Linked DNA regions of Homo sapiens: all the other regions are reported to be linked to region 1. Evidence: microRNA targets listed by miRTarBase, many of them from high-throughput screens and not tested one by one. Region 1 holds a microRNA gene; each other region holds the end of a gene's coding sequence.
Evidence for each region. The annotated mature microRNA hsa-miR-376b-3p reads AUCAUAGAGGAAAAUCCAUGUU and lies in region 1 at 5,010-5,031, opposite strand. An mRNA with a match to its seed (bases 2 to 7 or 8) in the 3' UTR can be bound and repressed. Matches are read on the target gene's strand: a 7mer-m8 pairs with bases 2 to 8, a 7mer-A1 pairs with bases 2 to 7 and ends in A, and an 8mer does both.

Region 2: the mRNA of RS1 is a reported target of hsa-miR-376b-3p. Seed matches in the 3' UTR shown: 7mer-A1 at 2,810-2,816.
Region 3: miRTarBase lists DCAF17 as a target of hsa-miR-376b-3p. Seed matches in the 3' UTR shown: 7mer-A1 at 2,807-2,813.
Region 4: miRTarBase lists ZNF266 as a target of hsa-miR-376b-3p. Seed matches in the 3' UTR shown: 7mer-A1 at 336-342.

The regions. Positions count from the first base shown.
Region 1 is chr14:101,037,596-101,045,527 of GRCh38, reverse strand. MIR376B (microRNA 376b) reads right to left here and starts at 5,092; the gene lies at 4,993-5,092. It overlaps MIR376C (microRNA 376c), which reads right to left and starts at 5,838; the gene lies at 5,773-5,838. MIR376A2 (microRNA 376a-2) reads right to left here and starts at 5,459; the gene lies at 5,380-5,459. MIR654 (microRNA 654) reads right to left here and starts at 5,309; the gene lies at 5,229-5,309. It also overlaps MIR376A1, MIR300, MIR1185-1, MIR1185-2 and MIR381HG.
Region 2 is chrX:18,638,517-18,642,516 of GRCh38, reverse strand. It overlaps RS1 (retinoschisin 1), which reads left to right. Exons shown (of 6, transcript NM_000330.4): 6 at 361-2,829. The coding sequence ends at 513. It overlaps CDKL5 (cyclin dependent kinase like 5), which reads right to left. Exons shown (of 18, transcript NM_001323289.2): 18 at 2,321-4,000. Among named protein-coding and RNA genes, the nearest start is that of RS1, 32 kb to the left of the region's middle. RefSeq lists a silencer at 1,684-1,853.
Region 3 is chr2:171,480,586-171,487,845 of GRCh38, reverse strand. DCAF17 (DDB1 and CUL4 associated factor 17) reads right to left here. Exons shown (of 14, transcript NM_025000.4): 14 at 2,794-6,872. The coding sequence ends at 6,732. Among named protein-coding and RNA genes, the nearest start is that of CYBRD1, 38 kb to the left of the region's middle.
Region 4 is chr19:9,405,817-9,413,541 of GRCh38, reverse strand. It overlaps ZNF266 (zinc finger protein 266), which reads left to right. Exons shown (of 11, transcript NM_001370374.1): 11 at 1-1,113. The coding sequence ends at 267. It overlaps LOC112268250 (a long non-coding RNA gene), which reads left to right and starts at 6,482. Exons shown (of 3, transcript XR_002958434.2): 1 at 6,482-6,692.

The DNA of each region.
Region 1 (7,932 bases):
AGCACCGAGGTCCCAGGCACTGGATGAATTTACACCTTAGACAAAGCAAAGGCCCTGTGGTCACCATCCCTTCATCCATCTCACAGAGCCGTTGACACCAGTGTCATTCTCCATGCCAGCCCTTGCCCCACCCCTGCCAGAGGCTGGCATCGTGGCCATGAAGCCATGCTAAGAAAGAGCACAGGGTCAACAGTAGTAAACCCCACGTACCCCCAAGTAACTGAGGAAGCAGACCCACAGCCCATTCCCCACAGTGGTCTCTCCTTCAAGAAGGGGAGAGGAGCGGGAGCCGCCTGGTCCAGGTGGCAGGTTATGTGACTCATTACCCAGGCGTGGTGCTCACCTCTCTTCAGCTGGACGTTCGCTTTCCTTGGGCTGAGGATGCTGCGAATGTCCTTCCTGAAGCTGGCTTCGGGTCCAGATGACCCCCATGGCAGTCGGGGTGTAAAAAGCCGGCAGTCACACGGCCCAAGGAGTGTCTCCACAAACACAGAACAAGAGTCCCATTCTCAGGCAGCCATCCTAGGTGTGAGCAGAAAGCCAGCAGTCAGAGACGGGGCACAGACATCGAGGCAGAAGCAGGCGCCCTCTGACCTCCCACATGCACGCACCTGGTGCGGGGCTGACAGCTCCCACGGCTCATCCCCAGCGCTGCCTTCATGGGCAATCACAAATGACAAATAGAAGCAAACCATTCTTACAGATTCAGCCTGGGGACTGCGAGCTGGATCATGAACACCCAAGCATCAAAAAAAAAAAGCGCTGATGAGCACACCTCAGCCCCTTCCCCAAGGTCAATACCACCTCCAGGAAGCCCTCCTGGGGCTGGCCTACCAGGCTCGAAAACAGCATAGACAGAGCCAGTGCTCCGTGGTCCACCATCACTGCTGTCTGTGTTCCCCTTGAAATGATCCAACATCCAGGTCCCCCTTCTAAGGCTGATGCTGGGAACAGGAAGCCTTCTGTGTATGACTTGGTACCAAGAAGAGGCAGATCAATGTGTGATTTATCCTTAAAAAAGCAAACCACCATTAAACTTGGAGCACACAAAAAGGTCCCTCCTCTCCCACTGCTTCCAGGGAGTCCACAGGAAGAACCAGCATAGAGGGCGAAGGCAGAACCCAGGGGCAGCGTCACAGCCAACCTCACGTTCCCGGACATGGAAGCCAGGCCATACCTGAGAGGGGCTGACATCCGAGGCTTTGTCCTGGAGACAAGCAGGGTATGAGTGTCTTCTCCGACAGTTTGATACGCAAATGAGAGTCTCCCCCTGTATATTCGCCATTAATCAAGTGAACATACAAAGGGTATCCTCTCTTTAAGTACCAAAGGGTGGCTCAAAGAGCAGGTGAGGACCATGCCGGGTCTTTGCCGGAGTGGACATCTCCTCCTGCGAGGCCTGAGACCAAGGGGGAGGGGCCCGGTGACAAGCCTCATCTGGCTGACCCTGGAGCTGGGCCTGCACCTTGCACATTGTGGCCTGGCCCCGAAAGGTGGCACATCCAGGACTCCCTGCAGGCGAGACTGGCTTCTAAACAAGGGAACAGGTAGGCATGACTATCAGTGTGCTCAGCATGCATGGGTGAACCTGCTTCAAATACCCACAAGCTACATGGACAATGGAACCATCACCTTTCTCCAAAGGGGCACAGGGTGTGAGGGCTCAGCCCGGCAAGACATGGAGTTATCAGAGAAGAAGGCATCTGCAGGCATTCTCAGAGCTGGAGAGCGCTGAGACAATGTCTCTCCTCTGAGGCTGGTTGTCCTAGAGATGACCAGATCCAAGAATGTGTCACCTGTACCTACCTCGAAACAAACAAAAAGAGGGCCCCAGCGTCAGACTCTAGCGACAAAGGAGTCCTGAAGACCAGACACACCTGCCCAAGGCACACTCAGGTGCAATCACTGGACAATGTGCTCCGAGGACTGGCCATTGGAGTCCAGCGACAGTCCCAGAGGGCACAGGCAGGCTCAGGGAGCTCCACCAGTAACTTGCCTTAGAACAACCTGACATCCATGTGCTTCCCTCAAGGCTGACACTCTCTCAAGGATGGAGACCACCAGGGAGTGGCAGGTCAGGGGAGTAGCAGGTGAGAAGCAGCATCAGCTCTGCGCTCCACCATCCACCACCCATTCGTGTGTCCGGAGAGGTGCGAGGTTAGTGCTGGACGCAGGAAGCCCTCTGGGTATGACTTGGTATGGAGAAGAGGCAGATCCATGTGATTTATCCTTAAAAAAAGCAAACCACCATTAAACTCAGTGCACACAAAAAGGACCCTCCTCTCCCACTGCCTCCAGGGAGTCCACAGGAAGAACCAGCACAGAGAGCGAAGGCAGAACCCAAGGGCTAGGATCACAGCCAAGCTCACGTTCCCAGACAGGGAAGCCAAGCCGTACCTGAGAGGGGCTGACATCCGAGGCTTTGTCCTGGAGACAGCAGGGTCTGAGCGTCTTCCTCGACAGAGTTTGATACGCAAATAAGAGTCTCCCCCTGTATATTCGCCATTAATCAAGTGAACATACAAAGGGTATCCTCTCTTCAAGTACCAAAGAGTGGCTCAAAGAGCAGGTGAGGACTATGCCGGGTCTTCGCCGGAGTGGACATCTCCTCCTGCGAGGCCTGAGACCAAGGGGGAGGGGCCAGGTGACAAGCCTCATCTGGCTGGCCCTGGAGCTGGGGCCTGCCATACAGTTGACTTTACTTCCCAGCATCTCTTCACGACAGGATTGGTTACCAAAAGACAGGCAATCCTGTACCATTTGAAATAATGTAAATGTAAAATGGCTGAAATCCCTTTAGGGCCTGCAAAAACACCCTGGGAGAAGAACCTCTGCCTCTGCCCAAAGCCACTGCCTCCAGGAAGCCCTCCTGGTGAACACTGGCTAAGGGAGGTTAGAAGATGCAGTCACATGCATCATTAAAGAAAAAAGAGAAACAGAAATCCAACGCACTCCGTTTGCAAATCACAAAGCAGCACTATGACAAGTGTCCCTTCTCCTGAATTTGGCATTGTATTCAGAAAGCCATCTGAGCAGTTAGTTGTTACTCAGAAGTATTCATCTAGGGCAAGATTCGTCAAAGGAAAATGAGATTCTCATGGGCCAACTCTCTCTGAATAAACACATGCTAACACCAGGAATCCAAGGGTCTTTCCATTGGCAAGAATCCCTAAAGGACACCAATGGACTAAGAGAGCAGTGGGGCTTAGAGGTCCCAGCAGCAAGTCCTGTAGCCACACTGGGTGCTCTGGGGCCTCCTTCCTGTGGACTGGCCTTCCCTCAAGTGGACAGTGAGGTCCAAAAGTCACTCCAAGGATGGGCTAGGTATGGAGAGTGGGTAGACCAGATGACCCACATCTACATTAGACATTGACTTTGCTGACGGTCATTCTTTCATGTATCTGGGAGATGCACTGACCACGAGACCTCTTCTCAGAGGCTGGCATCATGCTGGGCAGACCTGCCGGAGTAGCAGCCCATGGATGCTTTGTGATAAGTAGGGCCCATCAAGGGAGGCCCTTTGTTCTTTTCTTTTTTTTTTAACCTATTGTGTTGAGACAGGGGTCTCTGTCAGCCAGGCTGAAGTGCAGTGGCACAATCTTGGCTCACTACAACCTCCCAACTCCCGGGCTCAAGTGATCCTCCAGCCTCAACCTCCTAAGTACTGGGACCACAGGCGCACACCATGACACCCAGCTAATTTTTGTATTTTTTGCAGAGATGGGGTTTCGCCAAGTTGCCCACGCTAGTTTCGAACTCCTGGGCTTAAGCCATCCACCGTCTCAGCCTCCCAAAGGGCTGGGGTTACAAGCGTGAGCCACCGTGCCCGGCCAAGGTAGGCCCTTTTTGCTAGGCAGAACAGGTGGTCTGAAGAGAAAACCCTATATCATCTCCAAAGCCAGCATCTCTTCCAGAAAGTTCTTGGAAGGAAGCATGAGATGAGGAGGGTCAGAGAACCAGGTCACAAACAGCAAGACAGAGGCACATGCCCTGTGGTCAACCATCCACACCCCAGGGCTATCCTGGCCATCTAACAGGTTGCTGGAGTCAGCCTTGTTCCCAAGAAGGCTTCCCAGGCAGGATTTGCTCCCCAGAGAGAGTCTGCCCTTGTATAATCATTGCAAGTAAAGCAAATGCGTGAAGGATTACCTCTCTTCAAGTAGCAAATGATGGCAGTGACAGGAAGGCCATTTCCTCTGTGACTAAGTTGCCACCAGCTCCAGGAGCAAGCCTTAGAGACACAGATGGGATCTGCATGGTGAGAGCAGCACACCGAGGTGTGAAGTGCAGGCCCGTGGGTGAATCACACATCTATTCCTTCCATAGCCCCTGAAGCAGTGCCCCTTCCTGAAATTGACAGCCCACTCAGGTATTCTCTAAGGTACAACTAGTCACAGTAAAAGAGGTTCATTCCAGAAAATGCATTGCAATCATGGTAAACATACAGAGAACAAACTTCATTCAAGGTCAATGAGGCAATACTGAGAACACAGCCTTGTAACAACACATTATGTGTGCACCAAGGGCAGTGAGCAAACAGCAGAGAAGCTGACGGCGTATTTCATACAAAGTACAATTCTGTGTCTGTCCGTCCTGTACCCAGGAGGGGTACAGATAACATCTCCTCTTCCATGGCGACTTCACGTCCTCCGAGGTTTTCAAAGCAGCATTTGATACTGAAAACGTGGATTTTCCTCTATGATTAATCATAAATAATGTACTCATAGAAGGAGAATCTACCTTTTAAATACCAAAGAAGGATTCCATCCAGGAAAGCGTGCACCTGTGCTTGAGTCATCAGAAAAGAAAGTCACATGAGGCAGACGAGCTTCCAGGGAAGAACTGGCACCACGAGACCCACAATTTAATCTTCACCAAGTTGGCGTCTCGAGATGGTTCTCGGGCATACCCCGTTCATTCAGATACGACGTGCGGCCTACCATCTTTGCACCTACTCAGGCCCTACGGTCTCTTCCAGAAACATTTCCAAAGCAGCATTTGATACTGAAAACATGGATTTTCCTCTATGATTAACCAGGAATCACGTAAACATAGAAGGAATATCCACGTTTTAAATACCAAAGAAGGACTGGGCTCTGGAAAGGACAAATCTGAACACAGTTCATGGAAAATGGAAGCAAGACAGTAAAGCAACCGTTTTCAGTCCCGTAGCATAGCTGTGACAACACACCACAGCCTGTGCACCAAGCTGGCTCCTCAGCGAAAGGGGGCTTCTAAAGGTGATGGTCAGCAGACATATGGCACGAACTCAGCACATGTTCTGCGGCCCACCATCTTTCCACTTACCCTGGAGGGCTCAGCCCCACCTCACGTCCCTGATGGTGGCTTCAGTCCAGCCATGATCCCAAGGCAGCATTTGATACTGAAAACGTGGATTTTCCTCTATGATTAACCATCAAACACGTAACCATAGAAGGAAAATCTACCTTTTAAATACCAAAGAAGGTTTCATCCCGGAAAGCACGAACCTAAGTACAATCCATCAAACACAAAAGTAACATAGCACAGAGGAGAGCATTCGGCCTCATGGAGAAAATGACGACGGAGCCCAGCCGCTTGGCCGAGCGGGCAGCTTGCGAGAGGGGTCTCCTCAAGGCGGGTGGGTGGTCCGCAGACATATGGCACGAATTCAGCACATGTTCTGAGGTCCACCGACTTTCCACTTACCCTGGAGTGGGGGGGGGGACTTTATTGTCTCTTCCCTGATGGTGGTTTCAGTCCAGGAATGTTTCCAAGCAGCATTTGATACTGAAAACGTGGAATTTCCTCTATGTTTAACCATAAATAACATAAACATAGAAGGAATATCCACCTTTTAAATACCAAAGAAGGATTGAGTCCTGGAAAGCATGAACCTAAGCACAATCTATCAAAATTAAAGACAGCACAGGATAGGTGCAGTCGGCAGGGGCCTCCCGGGCTAGCGGCAGTGACATGGGCCCTGCGGAGGACGCATGTCCCAGGACAGACCTTGCTAACAAGAGCTTAGGTTCTGGGATTCACCTTCCATCACTCTCCGCATGGGGGAGGGAGCTAACCTTCCTCTCAGAAATGTTCAGAAATGTTTTAAAAGCAGCCTTAGATACTGAAAATGCGGATTTTCCTCTATGATTCACCATAAATCCTGTAAGCATAGAAGGAACATCCACCTTTTAGATGGGAAAAGTGGGAACAGCCCTGGAGAGCACAAACGCAAACATGATTCATGAAAGACAGAAGGTAACAGAAGCAGGTGAGCACTTTGCGAGTCCCACGTGGGAAGCGCAGGGCCCACCCCTGGCCTCTTCACATCCAGAGATGGAACTCCTATGCAGGCAAACGTAAGTTTGGGGTCTGCCCTGCTGTCACTCGTCTGGGTGGGGGTAACCCTAATGTCTCTTCCCTAATGGAGGCTTCATGGTCAAGAGCGTTTCCAAAGTAGCATTTAATTCTGAAAAAAAAAAAAAAAAAAAGTGAATGTACATCAAAAATTTGCCACAAGTAAAGCAGGCAAAGTAGGGATTCTATGCTTTGAATTCGAAAAATATCAAAAACAAAAAGAAAATAAGCCTGTCAGGTTCCTAAAGTCACATCGCCTCCATGAAGCCCTCCCAAGGCACCTAATGACCAATGTCATGTAACTGTGGGCTGGAGCATCCTTCACATACCTTGGAGGGAGAAGGACACCCAAGAATCTTCCAGAGACTGAAGCTTGTGTCCAGAAAGTTTCAATCGGCAGGACTGGTCATGTTGGTGTGACAGACTGAGGAATAGGCAAACAGGTCAAAAACAATGTCTCTTTAAATACAACTGAGAGAGGTAGCAAAACATGATGCTCACCAGCCCCTACCACCACCACCCTCCACCACCACCACCACCACCACCACCAACACCACCAACACCACCACCACCAACACCACCACCACCACCACCACCAGTACCACCACCACCACCACCACCACCACCAACACCACCACCACCAACACCACCACCACCATCAGTACCACCACCACCACCACCACCACCAATACCACCAATACCACCACCACCACCACCATCACAACCACCACCACCAACACCACCACCACCAACACCACCACCACCAACACCACCAGTACCACCACCATCACAACCACCACCACCAACACCACCAACACCACCACCACCAACACCACCACCACCACCACCATCAGTACCACCACCACCACCACCACCACCACCACCACCACCACCACCACCATCAGTACCACCACCACCACCACCACCACCAATACCACCATCACCACCATCACCACCACCACCATCACCACCACCACCACCACCACCACCACCACCACTAATACCACCCTCCAAAAACAATGATCACAGCTTCCAGAAAAATCATTTTTGGGGTGGAGTGGATGCAGAGGCTTACTAAAATAGCGACAACACATGCCTCCCATAGCAAAAAATGAAGGACCAATAATCCCAGACTCAAACCCTATCTCGCAAGGGTGCCATCACTCCAGGAAGTGCCGCTAAAACGGCTTCAGTTCTGAGGACCAGGAGACATTTTCCACAAGCAAAGCGTATGCTCCATGTCCCACCCTCCATTCACATTCCACACACGGACAACCTACACCAATCTCACTTCTCTAAAGCTGGAACTGGTTCAAAAAAGTCTTGTACTTGAAAACCACTACTTCTCACACATGCAGAGTTAGACATTCCTCCTACTGGCGAATGGATCAGTGAGTGGACCAGATAACACCCATTGTCTGCTATTAGCCAGTCCCTCCCCTGCAGTCACAGCTTGTTGAGGAAGCAAGTCTGATCCCCCGAAGCCCCCAAGCACGATTTGGCATAAATAAAGCACGTCTACATGGACAAGCATTCTGCACATACCAGCCAGAGCAAGGCCACTTCCCCCAGGTCGGGGCTGCCTCCACGAGG
Region 2 (4,000 bases), not on the chromosome of region 1:
ACCCTCCAATAGAACTTTCTGTGATGGAAATGTTCACATCTGCACTGTCCAATATGGCGGCCACTTGAAATGTGGCTCATGTGACTGAGGAACTGAATTTTTATCTAATTTTAATTAATTGAAGTGTAAACAGACATATTGGCTAGTGGCCACCCTATTGGATGGTGCAGTTCCAGATGTCCCAAGCATGTAGGTGTGATGACAATCACTCAAGGTCAGATTTTGGGGGGCACCCGCAAACTGCTTTAACTACTTCCTAATCATTTCTATAGTTAAAAGTTGGGGCTAGCTCCAGAAAGGAACCCTTCTTCCTTTTCCCTCCCCGATGTGATGGTGACAGGATTTCCTCTATCTCTCTAGGTCTTCTATGGCAACTCGGACCGCACCTCCACGGTTCAGAACCTGCTGCGGCCCCCCATCATCTCCCGCTTCATCCGCCTCATCCCGCTGGGCTGGCACGTCCGCATTGCCATCCGGATGGAGCTGCTGGAGTGCGTCAGCAAGTGTGCCTGATGCCTGCCTCAGCTCGGCGCCTGCCAGGGGGTGACTGGCACAGAGCGGGCCGTAGGGGACCCCCTCACACACCACCGAGATGGACAGGGCTATATTTCGCAAAGCAATTGTAACTGCAGTGCTGGGTAGATAATTTTTTTTTTTTTAAGATATAGCTTTCTGATTTCAATGAAATAAAAATGAACTTATTCCCCACTCAGGGCCAGAGAAAGTCAGAACAAAGAAAATGTCCCCGAAACGAATTTTCTTACAAAAGCCTAAGTAGCAGGGGTAATTTTCTGCTCATTTTTTGTCTCAGTGATACTGTGAAAGGTGCAGTCTCAGGGGAACACAAAGCAGCCCTGATAATTTGAAAATTCATTTGCTTTACCACATTCAAGACAGAAACATACAGTTTCCTAAAGCCTGGCTTTGAATGCAGAAGGGAGCAGCTCCTCCTAGTTAAGTTTCCACTAAATCATCGCCAAAGAGGACTTCAGAGCCCTGGGGAGGCAGCTGAGGGTCTCAAGGGTGACTGGGTGGCAGGGATGAGTGCGGTGGGTGAGAATCCCGGTGCCCTGAGAGGCTATACGTGACAAATGACCAAAAGCCCAAGGTAGGGGAGTTTCCTCTGCTCACAGTTCTTACCTTCAAGGCGGATCTGGGCTTCCACCCTCATGAACACAGGGATTGGGGAGGGACCAGAGCGCCCAATACACACAGCTCCATTATGCAATCCATTCCAGCAAATTCCCCGTGTCTGTGGTCACCATTTAGGTGATCATACAGGACAGGCTGCACATCTCAGTATATGTAGGGACCCCAAATGACCACAACACAGTACAATTGCCCTTTACCTAGGGCTACCATTTCCTAGCAAACCAAACATAGTTCGAGAACAGCTGGCCCAGGAGCTACCACTGGCTACTCAGAGGAGGCTCATTAGCTGGCTACATGCTTCGCAGGAAGTGGGAAGGACTCACATCATAAAAAGGACCATGTAGCTTTTTCCCTGAAAGCTTCTCACCCTCCACCCTCTGCCTTGCAATACGCAAACTGCGCCTGCTCCTGAAAAGCTCTCTGGGAAGGAATGGGCCTGGCTTTCCGTTCCTGGAGGCGGCGCCTTAGATTGGGAGGCCTCATTGGCCACTTAGAGCGCAGCCTGAGTTTCCAGGCCCCTTCCTGGGAGAGGCTGTTAACACGGGGGAGGGGCAGGAGAGGGATATGGAGAGCAGGTGGTGGAATCAGAGGACGAGGCTGCTCTAAAGACTGTTCTGGCCCCAGACACAGGGTAGTCTTTGCTAGCAGCTCATTTCCGAGTTACTTTTCATTTTCAAATGCCAAGGCAAGTGACTAGACTCGCGCTAATACAGTGCTGGACAACACATTCACCTTTTCTGTGAACAGGCAGCCTTCTAAAAGCCCCAAACATCCTTCTTGATGCTTTGGGGGCTCAATTATTTTATATCCAACCCAGCATCTTTCTAGTCCCTATGCTGTATGCTTGAACTTCGGAAAATGCTTTTCCCCGCCCAATCTTCTCTCAAATATAAACACATCACACAGGGTGTTGGGGGTGGGGGGGGGGGGTGGGGGGACTTATCCCTGGCCTTAGGACACAGGACAAATCTATTTTGGATAGAAATGCCTGAACAGAGACCCTTATTTGGAAAGGTGAATTAACTTTGGTCACGACATGGACTGTCAGACAAAATGGCAGTATCCTAAGAGTTAAGGCACATCAAACACAGGAGTCGAGAGAGTGCAGTTCAGGGAAAAAGGAGAGGAGGAAACAGTGAGGCAGGGAGAAAGGCTTTCCAAATAAGAGTTCATGTTGGAAACTTTTGTCACGGCTTTATTGAGATTAAGTTCACATACAATTTGTATCCATTTAAAGTGTACAATTTGATGACTTTTGGTATATTCAGAGTTGTGCAACCATTATCACTAGATCAATTTTAGAAAGTTTATCACCCCAAAGAGAAATCCTGCACCCATCAGCCAACACTCCCCAACCCATCGGCCACCCCAAGCCCTCTGCAACCACGAATCGACTGTCTCTGTAGATTGGCCTTCTGGACGTTCTACATAAATGAAATCATATAGTATGTGGTATTTCGTGACTGGCTTCTTTCACTTAGCATAGTGTTTTAAAGTTCATCCACGTTATAACATGTGTATCACTATGTCACTTGTCACTCCTTTTTATTGCTGAACATCATTGTTCAGTATCATGTCAAGAGCACATTGTTATTTATCCATTCATCCATTGATGGATATTTGGGTTTCCACTCTTTAGCTATTATGAATAATGCTGCTATGAACATTTGTGTATAAGTTTTTGTGCGGATGTGTGTTTTCATTTATCTTGGGTATATACTTAGGAGTAAAACTGCTGGGACACACAGTCACTCTTGTTTAATCTTTGGAGGAACTATTATCCCAAGTGGCTGCATCATTTTACATTTCCACCAGCAATGTAGGAGGCTTCCACTTTCTCCACATCCTCAGCAACACTTGTTACTGTCCATCTTTGACTATACCCATAATGTGTGAAGTTGCATCTCAACTGTGGTTTTGATTTGCATTTCCCTAGTGACTAATGATGTTGAGCATCTTTTCATGTGTTTACTGGCCATTTGTACATCTTTGGATAAAGGTTTTTCAGATCCTCTGCCCATTTTAAATCGGCTTACAACTTACTGAGTTTAAGAATTCTTTGTATATTCTAATTCCCTTATTGGATATGATTTGCAAATATTTTCTCCCATTCTGTGGATCTTTTTAACCCTCTCGATAGAGTCCTCTTAAGCACAAAATTTTAAATATTTGATGAAGTCCAATTTATTTTTCTCTTTGCTTGTGCCTTTGGTGTCATATCTGAGAAACCACTGCCAAATCCAAGGTCATGAAGATTTACCCCTATGTTTTCTTCTATGAGTTTTATAGTTCTACCTCTTACAGTTAGATCTTTGTTCCATTTTGAGTTAATTTTTGTATATGGTGTGAAATAGGAGTCCAACGTCATTCTTTTGCATGTGGATATCCAGTTGTCCCACCACTATTTGCTGAAAAGACTATTCTTTCCCCCATTGAATGATCTTGGCACCCTTGTCAAAAAACAATTGACCATAAATGTGAGAGGGTTTATTTCTGGACTCCAAATTCTATTACCTCACTTTCTTCATTATTGTAGCTTTGTAGTAAGTTTTGAAATTGGGGCATGTGAGTCCTCCAACTTTGCTCTTCGGGATTGTTTTGGCTATTCTGGGTTCCTTGAATTTCCATATGAATTATAACTAACTTGTCCATCATTGCAAAGAAGCCAGCTGGGATTTCACATTGGAAACTGCTCAATACTTCAGAATTTAATAAACAGTAAGATATACGATTCATAAGACATTTATCTGCAGATAATTTGCTTACAACAGCATATTATTTACTTCATTCAATTCATGACAGAATGTATAAAAACTAAAACTTTTATTGAGGGAAATCTGAAGCCTAA
Region 3 (7,260 bases), not on the chromosome of region 1:
GCTCACACCTGTAATCTCAGCACTTCGGGAGACTGAGGTGGGAGAATTGCTTGAGCCCAGGAGTCTGAGAACAGCCTGGGCAACATAACATAGTAAGTCTCTCTCTCTCTTTCTATTTTAAGTGCAGAAGATTTTGGCTAGGCACCTGTAATCCCAGCACTTTGGGAGGCCAAGGTGAGTGGATCACTTGAGGTCAGGAGTTTGAGACCAGCTTGGCCAACATGGTGAAACCCCATCTCTACTAGAAATACAAAATTAGCTGGGCATGATGGTGCACACCTGTTGTCCCAGCTACTTGGGAGGCTGAGGCACGAGAATCTCTTGAATCCGGGAGGCGGAGGCTGGAATGAGCTGAGATTGAGCCACCGCACTCCAGCCTGGGTGACAAAACGAGACTCCGTCTCAAAATAAATAAAGAAAAATAAGTACAGAAGATTTCACTATGTCATCAAAAAGATATACACACAACAAATAAACATGAAAATGTGCTTATCATTATTGGTCAAAAGGGAAATGTAAATTTAAACCACATTGAGATGCTACTACCTATTAGAATGTCTAAAATTAAAAAAAAAATCCAGGGTCCTGAGATCATAAAAACAATTTCATATATGTAATATATATATATACACACCCATACACAATTAAAAAGATTGGCCATATCAAGTGCTGGCAAAGATATGAAGCAACTAGAACTCTCATATACTGATAATGGGAATATGAAGTGGTACAGCCATTTTGGAAAACCAGTTTGGAAACTTCTTAAAAAGTTAAGCATACACCTAACATAGGAGCCAGCCATTCCCTCCTCAGTATTTACCCAACATAAAGCGTATGTCCATACAATTATACCTCGTAGCTTCATTTGTAGTAGCCCAAACTGGAAACAACTGAAATGTCCATCGAAAGGCCACAGTATAAACAAACTGTAGACATATCCATACAATGGAGATTACTCCACAATAAAAAGGAATGATCTATTGATACATGCAATACAGATGAATCTCCAAATAACTGTACTGAATGAAAGCAGCCAGCAAATAAAAATACTTACTATTTCATTTATATACAATTCTAGAAAACACAAACTAACCTGAAGTTACAGAAACAGATCCGAGGTTGTCTTGGGAAGTGGGGACAGAGGGGCAGAAGGGAGGGATCACAAAGGTGCAGGAAAAAAAACTTTTTGGGTAATGGGTATGTCCTTTATCTTGATTGTGGTGATAGTTTCATGGCAAAACTTATCAAATTGTGTACTTTAAATACATGCAGTTTACTTTGGAAGGCCCAGGCAGGCAGATCAGTTGAGGTCAGGAGTTCGAGACCAGCCTTGCCAACATGGTGAAACCACATCTCTCCTAAAAATACAAAAATAAGCTGGGTGTGGTGGTGCCTATACTCCCAGCTACTCTGGAGGCTGAAGTGGGAGGATCACTTGAACCCGAGAGGCAGAGGTTGCAGTGAGCTGAGATCGTGCTGCTGCACTCCAGCCTGGGTGACAGAGCGAGATTCTGTCTCAAAAAAAAGTGTTTACTGCACGTCAATTATACTTTAATAAGTCTATAAAGAAAATTTAAAGATCTCTGATAATTCTAATAATTTGATTTTATTTGCTGACATCTTTTTATTGGATTTACCACCTTTGCAAAGTTGGTTTTTCTGAGAAAAAAAGTGTAGCCAAAATTCTTTATGAAACTAAAATTCAATGTTGTCTCTAATCAGGAATAACACTTGTATTCATGAAAACAAAGAATTAAAGGAGAGTATCAGACAAATATTACAGGCTATTGCTGATCTCAATCCTCCCTTTCCTTGCTATTGTCTGTTAATCTCAGTGGGTTCTATCTGAGAGCTTAGTGTTCACAGCATGGTGTTTTTTAATGTGCCTATATAGGAGGCTGAGTGTCCCCCTCCTTTCCACCTTCACCCTTCTATAGGACTCAGGTTATAATGAGGAAAGGAACTGAACCTGCAAACTTTGGCACAAATTCTAAGACACTTGAATTGAGAGTCAAAAAGAGTATAAATAAATAAATACTTCTGAAATTTTGTGCACCTCTAAAATTTGAATATACTAATTTGCTATCACAACATATCCGGCCTAGAATACTACAGTTAGTGAGAAAAGGATACAGCTTGTTTAATATGCTCTCATATTAGAGAAAAAAAATTCACCTGATTTCACCTGTTATCATGTACATGATAACACGAACTCAACTTTTGAAGAAAAAAGTCACCTTTCTGCTTTTATTATAATGATTGTTGTGACCTCTTCTCCAGTGCCATTTTGTCCAGCTCCAGTAGTCATGTGAAACGGTGGAACACGTGCCCTTAGAACCCAGGTTGTTCCCAACTATGATCTCCATTAAAGGAATCAGGGTTCTTTGATGAGCAATGTATCCCATGTTTGAGAAAGAATAATTCAAGCTGAGTTTTGGGGTATCTTAACTATTATCACAAAGGATGTTTTCAGCAGTTCCTGGGGAAGGAAGGAGGTCAAGTTGACAAGAGGGTTGCTAACCACAAGTAGAAACAATCTGAGTATCAACTAGAAATGATTACACACCCAGCATAAATACTAAGATAAAGAAGACTAACAACCACACATGCTGGAGAATGTGTGGAGCAAGTGGAAGTCTCCTACATTGCTGCAAGCATGTAAAATCGTACAATCCTTTGGGGAAAAGGTCTGGCAGTTTCTTATTAAACTAAATATACACCTACCCAAGGACCCGAAAATTCCATCCCCAGGTATTTACCCAAGAGAAATAAAGACACATGTTCACAAAAGAATTGTCTAAGAATGTTCATAGCAGCTTTATTCATAACAGTAAAAAACAAGCAGAAAGAGCCCAGTGTCCATCAACAGAAAGATAAAAAAACAAACTGTGATATATTCATACGAAAGAATACTCAGCAATAAAAAGAAATGAATCACTGACACATGCAACAACATGAATAAATCTCAAAAACATTATGCTAAGTGAAAGAAGCATTACATTTTGTATAATTTCACTCATATGAAGTTTAGAACAGGTAAATTTAACCTTTGATATAAAAGAATGAGAACAGTAGTTATACCTGAGGGGTGGGGAGGGGATAGACTGGGAGAGGGATTTAGGAAACTTTCTGAAGATGATTGCAATGGTCTAAATTTTGGAAAGGGTTTGGGTTACACAGGTGTATATGTCTGCAAGAACTCAGTAAATTTATACTTAAGATTTGTACATTTTATTGCAGGTAAATCTTAAATCAAAAAAATTTAAAAACTAAATAAATACTAAACTCTAGTTAATAATCTGCAGTTGAAGTACTAGGGGGAAGTATATCAGCAACTGCAATTTATTTTGAAATCCATCAAAAAGTACGCTGGATAGGAAAATAATAAAACAAGTAGAGTAAGATGTAGAATCCCCGTGGTCAGTATTTACTATAAAATTCTTTCAATTTTACTGTATGTTTGAACATTTTTCATAATAAAATGATGGGAAAAAGACCTCAGTAGGTCTTATCTTTCTATTGTATGTCCCTTGTTTGAAATAAATTATTCTTTCTGCAAGATACAGATTTGATAGCAACACAGGGACCAGAAATTAGCTCCCTGGGATTCTAAAAGATGGATGATATAAGTAAACATGGTAAGAAGGAGAAGAAAATATAAAAATGATTAATATGGAAGCCAAATAATATGAAAACTACTAATACTGATTATCACCACAAACAAAGGGAAAGTACCTTTTAATGACTGCTAACCATTGAATGAAGAACTACATTTTCTGTCAATTTATGTGTGACTTGTATCTTACCCAAATTTGTTCAAAATTTAGACACTGAATCATCAGTAAAAAACGATTATTAAGCACTTTCCTACATATCTAGTATTATAGTTGTTGGTATGCTAAATTGGGATAAAATAACATGCCTTGCCTTTTGAGAACTTTGGAGGAAATTTGGCACAAGTTCATGCCGAACAAATCTGGTTATGTTTCCCACCTCTGCACTGACTAGTTGTGGGACCCTGGGCCAATTAACTTCTGTGAGCCTCACTTTCCTCATTTGTACAAAGGGGAAAGATAATGGCAGTTCATACTTCATGTGGTTATTCTGAATATTAAATGAGACAACCCACTTTACTTATACTGTATCACAGTGACTAGTAGATAGAAAGTGCTCAATAAATATATTATTTAAAAAAAGAACTGTAAGATACAAAACTTTCAATTGGTGGAAGAATGTGAAGTGCCTTAATTTGTCTAAACAGAGCGGTATCTCCTCACTAGGTAGCACAAATAGTAAATAGGATAGGATTTGTTTTGTTTTCTCCCAGAGTTGTGATAAATATTGTAAAAAATTGAGGAACAATAAGCTTGCTGCATTGATGCTCTGAGAATGCAGAAACTTAGATCCAGGAGTGCAATGCAGAATGCACCTCTTTTCAGCGTAACGTCTGTACCTGCTGATGGAAGCTACCCTGCTTCACCTGGGCTTGCATTAAACACTCAGAATTGTTACCCATAATGTTTTGTACCTGTCACTAGTACCTGTTAAGTAGGTGGGCATGTAGCTAGAGTCTCGAATTAAAATATCAGGTAAAGAGGGGGTTTAGGTAGGGCAGGAAGACATTAATGTCTGGCAGGTGGCAGAATGAGCAGCTGTGTGACACTCTGGCGAGCTGGGAAGCATGCTTCATTGTCTCTCGCTATGTGTGGTATCCAAATTCCCCACATTCTTTGCTATCTTCTGTATCTTCTGGCATCTTTTTACCATCTATCTTGTTAACAACCATGCAGCCTACATTCCCACATACTGTTGCAACTGGCTGAAACTAAGCAGTAGCAGCTGCTCCTTTTAGTTGGGGCATAGCTCTCCTGTTTGTTACACTGCCCACAACTCCTTACTGTCTTTCACATGAGGTATATTTCCTGCCTGGCCTGGATGGCATTTGGACCCTGGTCTAGTTAGATTTAGGCAGTGGTGACATACTGGGGGTTTCTTAGTGGTAAGTTATATCTAGACCAGAAGTATTCCACCATCTACCCCCAGCAAAAAAGCAGCCAGGAATTCAGCTATTTCTCAAATGCCTTTCAGAATAGACGAGTTCCTTACTATCATTTCATAAAAGGAAGGTGATGACTTAAAGGAGAAGGAGAAACTCAATAATCACCTAAAAAAAAAAATCTCTGACATGACTGAAGTCTTAAGACATCCTATTCTGAAACACTCTTGGAAATGGAGAATGAACACTCTACTTTTACACAGCATTGCAGCTGCTTTGAAACTCACACAACATTGGTTTCTTTCTTTAGTACTTTCACTGGCCTCTTACTGGTCTTGTTTTTCAAGATGTAAGTTTACTGAGTGGGACTATTTAGATACAGCTAGTGTCTAATTGAAAGTATGGGGCAATGTCTAGCACCAGGGCAGAACTGGGAAGAATTCACATCATTCTTAACATGGCATCAAGCCAAAACTGAAAAAAAAAATGGAAAGATTTTAATATAAATCATCCAAGCTAAAAATTCCATATTTTAACCTTAAACTTGAATCAGCAATGATTGTTGCTGCTGTTTCCTTCCCTTATTACCAGTTATTCTTTTGAGGTTACATCGGATAAATGTGCAGAACATGCGAAATGGAAGCAACTGAATTTCTCAAACAGGAAGCACAAAGAAACATTTTCTCCCTTTACTTGGGTTGCCTTTATTTAACATTCTAAAGAATGATTATTAAAAGTCAAGGACCATATTTAGATCTTTCCTAACAAAGAAGAAATAATGCTTGTTCCATAAGTAAGCCAAAAATTTTCTCTGGTTAATCAGGTAACTCCCAAGCTAGTAAGAACTTCTTCTGGGACTCTTTATCCACTTTTCTACAGGAAACAGAACTACTGCAGGCAAGGGTACCTTTATCTTATTGCATAAGTATGCAAATATTGCCTAAACAAGATCAGAAAACTCACTAAATGAGTAGAATGGTGAGATGAGAACATCCTTAGATACATTAAGAGCTAAACAGGATGCAAATCAGAAAACAATTTCACTTAAGGTTTGCTTGGAATCTTTTACATTAGCCTATATAGAAACACAAATATTCAATGTGAACATCAAGCCAAGAGAACAAAACCAAGGAAGAAAAGATAATTTGGGAACTAGAACCAATTCCTGATACTATATACAAATACGAAACACATATAAATACATATATAAGATTTTTAAAAACTGTGATGACACATTTTGGGCTCAAAATAATGTTCTCACATAACACATCTCATTTCTCATCCTTAAGCAAAGTTTGGTATAGAGGATATAAGATTTCTTTCTGCATGTTTACTTTTGTCTCTCCCTGTCTTTCCTAGCCTTAACAAACAAAATTCCATACCATCCTTTAAGAACTCATCAATGACCCACCCCATCAATGACTTAACTCCTCAACAATTGGAATTAACCTGTCCTTTTCTGTTCCCAGCATTTTATATTTGCATTACCACCTAGCTCAAAGCTGCAAAACACTAAACTTCTTGGAACAGTATTCTAAAAAACCTTTAAAAAAAATGAAGTCCTCACCATCTTTTACAGCAAGAGTTTAAAAAAGAAGTCATAGTCATCTGAAGTCAACACAAGACTTTTTTGGAAAATACTGGAGAATGTGCCATGCAGATAATAAAATGGATTGGACGCAGCTGCTGGGGTGTTTGGCTAAAAGTCTCTTAGGTTACAATTATCTCACTCTTTTTAACAGCTTCTGTTTATGGTTTCTTCTTCTTCCCCAGTGTCACATATCATCTGGTAAACATAGCAGCTGAAGACTCTGTTGGGTTTCTGCTCTATGTGTAGCACCAAGTCTCTGTCAAAGTAGACTTCATGGCTATATGTCTGTAACAAAACACAATCATATGGAGTCCTTTTCACACAGCCATATTCACTACTGTGTTACTAAAATGTCACAGTACCTATGCTAGGGATCTTCAAACATACACTTAGAAGAAAATAGTTGCTAGAAAGAGGTTTATTTTTCATTATTTGTGGATATGCAGATTATTAACAAAAAAGGCATTCTACAAAATATAGAGAATAAAAAGAACTCTGGACCCAGGAGTCTAAATACCCAGATTCTATTGCCAACGCTGCTATTATCTATCTCACTGTGTGATCATTTACGAGGTGCCAAACTTCCCAGGTTCTCCACTGATAAAACAAGACCTGGATAAAATGATGTCTATTGTTCCTTACAACTTTGACATTCTATAATAGTTGAAATATC
Region 4 (7,725 bases), not on the chromosome of region 1:
AAACCATTCACGTGTATGGAATGTGGCAAAGCTTTTAAGTTTCCCACGTGTGTTAACCTTCACATGCGGATCCACACTGGAGAAAAACCCTACAAATGTAAACAGTGTGGGAAATCCTTCAGTTACTCCAATTCGTTTCAGTTACATGAACGAACTCACACTGGAGAGAAACCCTATGAATGTAAGGAGTGCGGGAAAGCCTTCAGTTCTTCCAGTTCCTTTCGAAATCATGAAAGAAGGCATGCGGATGAGAGACTGTCAGCATAAGGAATGTGGGAAAACCTAAAGGTGTCCCTGTTCTCTCTGAAGACATGAAAACTCACTGGGGAGAAACCCTATGAATGTAAAAATGTGGAAGCAACTTTGTATCTCAGGTCTTAATGAACACATATGAATTCACAGTGGAGAAGACCCTGCATCAGGGAATGTGGAAATGACTTTGCTGAATTCTCAAGCCTTACCAAACACATCAGAAATCTCACTGGAGAGAAACTGTATGAATGTAGAGAATCTGGGAATACCTTTCTGAATCCCACAAACCTTAATGTGTGTATGTGAACTCACATTGGAGAGAAACCCTGCAATTTAAATGGTATGGTCTGGATGATGCCCCACTCCATATTTGTAAGCCCTAAGTCCTAGTTCCTTACACTATAACTGTATTTGGACATAGGGTTTTCAAACAGGTGAGTAACTTCAAATGAGGTTGTTGGGTTCGATCCCTAATCTGACATCACTGGTGTCCCTATAAGGGAAACTGAAGGAAGGATACACATGGAGAAGACTGTGTGGATCCACCAGAAGATGGCCATCTACAAGCCAAGGACAGAGACCTGGAACAGATGCTTTCATTATGGCCTCCAGAGGAAACCAACCCTGTCTCCACCTTGATATTGCACTTCCAGGCTCCAGAACTGTGAGGCAATAAATTTCTCTTGGTTAAATCATTCAGTCTGTTATTTTGTACAGCAACCCTAGGAAACTAATACTGTGAGGAACTTGGGAAAAGCTTTAGATCAAGCTTGTCCAACCCGCAGGCCAGGATGGCTTTGAATGCAGACCAACACAAATTTTTAAGCTTTCTTCAAACATAATAAAATTTTTTTGTGATTATTTTTTCCGTTCATTAGCTATCATTAGTGTTAGTGTAAACACAAAAGCAATCACAGGAGAGACGTTCTATGAATGTAGGACATGTGAAGAAGTCTGTAAGTGCTCATCAGATCTTAATACTCACTTCCAACTCTTGTGGTGATAGGCCCTGTGAAAATCAAAGACCATCAAGAAGAGAAAGTTTCTTTTACTATGAAAGTCATAAATGTGACTTCACCCAACATTTAGTGACTTAGAGTGGACTGAGGCTCCATTATTAGTAATGTGGAGAGATTTCATTAAATGTTTATACCTTACATGAGAAATAAAAATTCACAGTGTAGAGAACACTTCTGCTGTAAGGCACGTGGGAAAGCTTTTACTAATTCCACGAGGCTCATTTTACATATCTAAAATTAGACTGCAAGTGAGCCAAGACCCCTACACTCCATCCTGGGTGACAAAGCAAGACTCTGTCTCAAAAAAAATAAAATAAAATTAGACTGCAAATGTCCTGGGAATGTAGGGGAATGTATGGCAACCTTTAAATATCTCACATGCCATAATGTTAACATGAAATCTCACATTGGAGGAAGAACCTGTGTATCCCAGGGATATGGTGTCACCTTATTTCATTGCTCAAGCCTTAATATCTTTGTGAGAATTCACACTGGGGTAAAACCCTGTGATTATAAAAAGGATGCAGGAAGTACTTCATTTGCTTCTCATATCTTACTGTATCACAGTTCATAGCCATGTGAATGTAAGAAATATGGGAAAGCTGTCAGAATCTCTTCACAACCCAGCAGGAAGTAACTTGCAATGAGACCACACAGTCTGTGAAACATGGAAAGCCCTTTGCTGTTATCTCAGGGATTGCTTAAGTAAGGTTTTGCAGTAGAGAGAAATCCTATTAGTGTAAGAGGTTTTGGAGAGTGGTAGTTCAGCTAAATAATGTTGACTTCTCAGATTGGAAAACTCTGACCAATTGAAAATGTTTTATTACTCTTTTAAAATATCCGTGTTCACCTGGTGCAGTGGCTCAGAGCTGTAATCTCAGCACTTTGAGAGGCTGAGGTGAGTGGATTGCTTGAGCTCAGGAGTTCAAGACCAGCCTGGGTAACCTGGTGAAACCCCGCCTCTACAAAAAAGACAAAACTTAGCTGGGCATGGTGGCTTATGCCTATAGTCCCTGCTACCCAGGAGGCTGAGGCAGGAGAATCATTTTAGCCCAGAAGGAGGTTGCAGTGAGCTGAGATTGTGCCACTGCACTCTAGCCTGGGTGACAGAGTCAGACGCTGTCTCAAAACAAAAAATCCATGTTTCAGAGCAGTTTTAGGTTCACAGCAAAATAGTGTGGAAGGTTCAAAGACATCCTATATTCCTGCGGCCACTACATATGCATAGCTTCCACCATCATCAACATACTCCACCAGAGTAATACATTTGTTAGAATTCATGAACCTGCATTGCCACTTCATTATCACCCAAAGTCCACAGATCATCGGTCCTCCCACTATTCCTCCCTCCCTCTCCCCAGCCCGACAACCACTCATCTTTTTACTGTCTCCATAGTTTCGCCTTTTTCAGAATGTCATAGAGTTGGAATTGTGCAGTACGTAACTTTTCAGATTGGCCCAAAGTGATAACTTCACATCCTTCTTTTCCAGTTCAAATGTTGCCTTTTTCAAAACCACTCATGGCCTGCCCCGCCCTCATCCTGTGCCCATAAAAACCGCAGGCTCCACTAACAGAGTAGAAGAGGGTGGGGGCTTTAGTTCTGTCTCTAGAGCAAAGCCCACAGTTATTGGTTAATGAATGCGTTAAGGCACCCACACCTTCCACCAATGTTGAGCTGTGTTCACCCCATGGTGACTTTTGGGGCAGTGGATTGCAGGGTGGGTCTGGAGTGCCATGTGACTGCTCTGCAGGACTTGGAGACTGGTGAAATTTCTGCACAGGTGGCTTCTGGAGCTCCTGGACAAGGCGCACCTTTCCTCAAGAGCGTGACTCCTTGATGCTTGGAATCTGGGTGAGGACAGGATGAGGACATTTAAAAATACTGTTTAGTGTTAGGTTTTTAACTCATTGTTTAATTCTCTGACACAGCAGCTGAGCTTTTTTTTTTTTTTTTTTTTTTTTTTTTCTTGAGATGGAATTTTGCTCTTGTTGCCCAGGCTGGAGTGCAGTGGAGAGATCTTGGCTCACTGCAACCTCTGCCTCCCGTGTTCAAGTGATTCTCCTGCCTCAGACGCCTCAGTAGCTGGGATTACAGGCACGTGCCACCACGCCCAGCTAATTTTTGTATTTTTAGTAGAGATGGGGTTTTGCCATGTTGGCCAGACTGGTCTTGAACTCCTGACCTCAGATGATCTGCCCCTCTTGGCCTCCCAAAGTGCTGGGATTACAAGCATGAGCCACTGCACCCGGCACTGAGCAATTTTTTAAACCAATATATTCTTTGGTGCAGCATCTAATTTAATACTTATTTTAAAACCTAATCCTTTAAAAATCTTTTATTTGCCAGTTGATAGAGAATGTCTGTTTTAAACACACGTTTCTAATGTATAAATCTAATGTTAGCAATACAATTCCAAACCCTTTACTTATCAGTGGGTATTTTATTTAGCAGAGACTGTATAAAATGCACTGCTAGCCAAACTGCTTTTGAATTTCTTTTGCCCCAGATCTCTGGTTTTTGGAGGCTTCATTAAATAAAACTAATAATCCTCTATTCACTTTTTAAGAATTGTGGTAAAGTATATTACATAAAGTTTACATTTTAACCATTTTAAGTGTCCACTTCGCTGGCATTAAGTATACTCACATTGTTGGGCAACTGTCACCATCATCCCACTAAAAAATGTTTATCTTCCCAAACTGAACCCAGTAAACACTAACTCCCTACTGCTCCCTTCCCAATCTCTGGCAAACACCATTCAATTCTCTGTTGGAAACAAGTGCTCGACATAGCCAAAAGAAACCCCCTAGAAAATTTCTCCGCAGGGCACCTTTACTTCTGCAGAAGGGTGCTGCTTGTGCCCGTTACGATCGCAAGAGCACGATGAACAAAGAAGGGAAGGAGTTTTTAATTTAATGCAGTTCCTGTTTCTGTGTCGTCCCCCAATTGGCTGGGATTGGACTGCACAATCTAAGCTGATCCCGATTGGCTAAGACTTAAACTTTTCCAAATAGGGTAAATGTGCGATTTGTGGAAACAGAAGAGAAGAAAGGGGGTAGGATTGATGTACAACTTTTATAACTTATGATCAGAAAGTTGAGTCTTTGAAGAGGAACTTAGTTGTTCCAACATGTGTCTGTGTTAACCCCACTACTGTAGGTACCTCATAAAAGTGAAGTCCCAGTATTTGACTTTTTGTGACTAGTTTATTTCATTTAGCGTAACATGTTCAAGGTTCATGTTCATGTTCATGATCAAGGAACATGTTCAAGGAACATGTTCATGTTCATGTTCAAATTCTGCACATCTCAGAATTTCCTTTTTTAAGGCTGGATAATCTATTGTATGGCTATACCACAGTTTGATTTGCTTTCACCTTTTCAATATTGTGAATAAAGCTGCCATGAACATGGGTGTACAAATAGCTCTTCCAGTACCTGCTTTCAACTTTTTGATTAATATACCCAGAAGTGGAATTGCTGGATCATACGTTGGTATCATTTTTTAGTATTAATGTTTATTTTCCAACTCGGTCTTGAGGTTTCTCTCTTGAGAAAGGCCAAAAGCCAATATAGCCACACTCTTTTTTTTAATTTTTTTATTTTAAGAGTCTTGCTCTGTCATCCAGGCTGGAGTGCAGTGGCACAATCTCAGCTCACTGCAACCTCTGCCTCCTGGGTTCAAGTGATTCTCATGCCTCAGCCTCCCGAGCAGCTGGGATTACAGGCATCTCCCACCATGCCCAGCTAATTTTTATATTTTTTGTAGAGACGGGGTTTCACCATGTTGGCCACACTGGTCTTGAACTCCTGACCTCAGGTGATCCACTCACCTTGGCCTCCCAGAGTGCTGGGATTACAGGCCTGAGCCAACATGTCCGGCCCGAGATAGCCACTCTCTAGGAGAGCTGGTGGAGGATGTTAAGTTCAAGTGTGTCAAGTGAGACACAATGAGAAAGTGAAACCAAAATCAATGAAAGGAAAAAGTTTATTATAGATTCCAGAGAAGTTAGGGGTGCTGAATAATGGCCCACAGGAAGTCCAGAGACAGTATGGTGCTCAACCTGTGGGTAGGTTACTGGAGAGATGAAGAGACAGAGAGGGCCTGTGGGACTGTGCCTTTTAAGGACCATGGGTTTGTCCTTCAGTCTTTCTTCACGTGACTGTCGATTGGCTAGGGAAAAAAATGAAGGGGGGAATTTATTTACATGACTGTGGTGTTGGTCATTAGCTTTTATAGGAGTCAGCAGCTGTGAGATGAGGAACACGTGGGTTATATCAGGAAACAACCGCACAGGGAGAGGAAGTTTGTCAGACCTAAAAGCGTAGCAGCTTTATATTAAACAAATTATGACCTATGGCAATTCTACATTTATTCCCTATCACTTTTTTATGTTTTTAGGAGACAGGGGTCTGCCCAGGCTGGTCTCTAACTCCTGGGCTCAAGCAATCCTCCCATCTGGGTCTCCCAAAGTGCTGGGATTGCAGACGTGAATAAAACACCCGCCCCAAATCACTTTTAAATCCTACCACGTCTTGGCAGGTGTTTTATTCACACGGATATTTAGAAAATGCCAAAAAGGGTTTGTGTGTGTGTATGTGTGTGATATAAAGGTTCTGGTTTGGTTGTCAAAAATATAGGAAGAACTACAGTACACAGGGCTTTAAATTCCAAAGTTTTTCTTTGCTTGTAGACTGATATTTATCATAGTCCCTGGAGGAGGGTGTAAGGCCTCCAGCGACCCAGGATCCAGTTTCAGAGACTTCTTCATTAGGTTAGTGAATGTGGCCAAGTTACACCGCCCGTCCATGCCTCTGTTTTCCATCCATAAAGAGGGCAACATAAAAACGCTCTTGAAGGAGAAGAAGGGGAACCCCTCCCACGGCTCCAGGAGACCCCTGTGCAGATTTCACCTGGGGTCTGCATGGCCTGAAGGGTGGCTCTCCCACAGGCAATCCCGCCTCCAGGGCATCGCCCCGCCCCATTGTCTCCGTCTTGGTATCGCCCCGCCCCTTCTGCCTTTCCCGGGGGACGCTGGGATCTCTCTACTAGCTTTGGAAAGTCGCGGCTGTAGCGCCCTTCTAACGTCACCACGCGGCTCTCGTGGCTCCTGTTTCTCAGCCCATTCCAGGTCACCTCCCCCCCCTCCCCCGTTGCCCTCATGCCTGGAAACGGAAGTGCGCTCCCGGAAACGGAAGTGAATGCCGTACTCCGCGTGCAGGCCCGCCTCCTTCCACATCAACCAGTCTAAGGTTGCTCCCACCAGACTAGGAGGACTGGAGAGTAGGGTTGGGGTCAAAGGGTAGCCTCCTGCAGGTCGCCTCCTCCTGTGGCTTTCCCGGACGTCGCGCTGGGACTTCCTGCCGACACCGCACTTCTTCCCAGACTCCCACCTGCGCCGCTGGGGGCTTGGGTCCAGGTAAAAGGCGGGTCGGGAGTGCGGGCAGCGAGCTTCGGTGGGGCCTTTTCGTCCGCGGTCTCCCCTTTCCCAAGCCTCTTCATCAGCCTTTGCAGACTTTCTGCAGAAGGAAGAAAATCTCTTGCTGGAGTCGTGGTTGTTTTGTCCCCAGCAGCTTCACCGACCAGGGGATTCCAGCCAGTTTGGGTGAACACTGGGTGAATTTGTTCTTTTGGGGGATGTTCTTTATATTTGGTAAATTATGTACAGGTGGAGAAATTAGAAACTCATTGTTAGGGAGTACGGGCATCTGACACAATTAAATGCATGGGTGAATGAATGCATGTAAATGCAAATTTTACTGTCACGGAAAATCAGCTCGGTATTCAGCTCAGAACCCTGTAAATCTCTAAGCTTCAAAATACAAGCATCTCCAGAGAAAAAAAGAGAACATGCAGGCTTGTTTTTGTATCACAAATGGGAATTGAGTTGACCATAAACAGCAAGAGCCTTTTCCAAGTGGATTTTCCTTACCTTGTTAATTTGGAAATTTTCAAACTGAAGAAAATGTCAAAGTCTGGTACAACAAACCACCATTGCCCTAGATTCACTAAGTAATTAATCTCTTGTCATTTCCTTTTTTTGAGACAGTCTCACTCTATTGCCCAGGCTGGAGTGCAACAGCACGATCTCCGCTCATTGCAACCTCCACCTCCCAGGTTCAAGTGATTCTCTTGCCACAGCCTCCCAAGTAGCTGGGATGACAGGCGCAGACCACCACACCCAGCTAATTTTTGTATTTTTAGTAGAGACGGGGTTTCACCATGTTGGCCAGGCTTAACTCCTGACCTCGTGATCTGCCCTCCTGGGCCTCCCAAAGTGCTGGGATTACAAGCACGAGCCACCGCGCCTTGCACATACGAAGGTTTATAAGCTAAAAGTAAGTTGACGGTGAGGTAGGAGGCGGGACTAGACTCTGGAGTCTAGTGGGCTTGGACACCCCACCAAATTGAAGACTAGCTAAAACAGGTCTGTGCCACATGAATATTTTTTT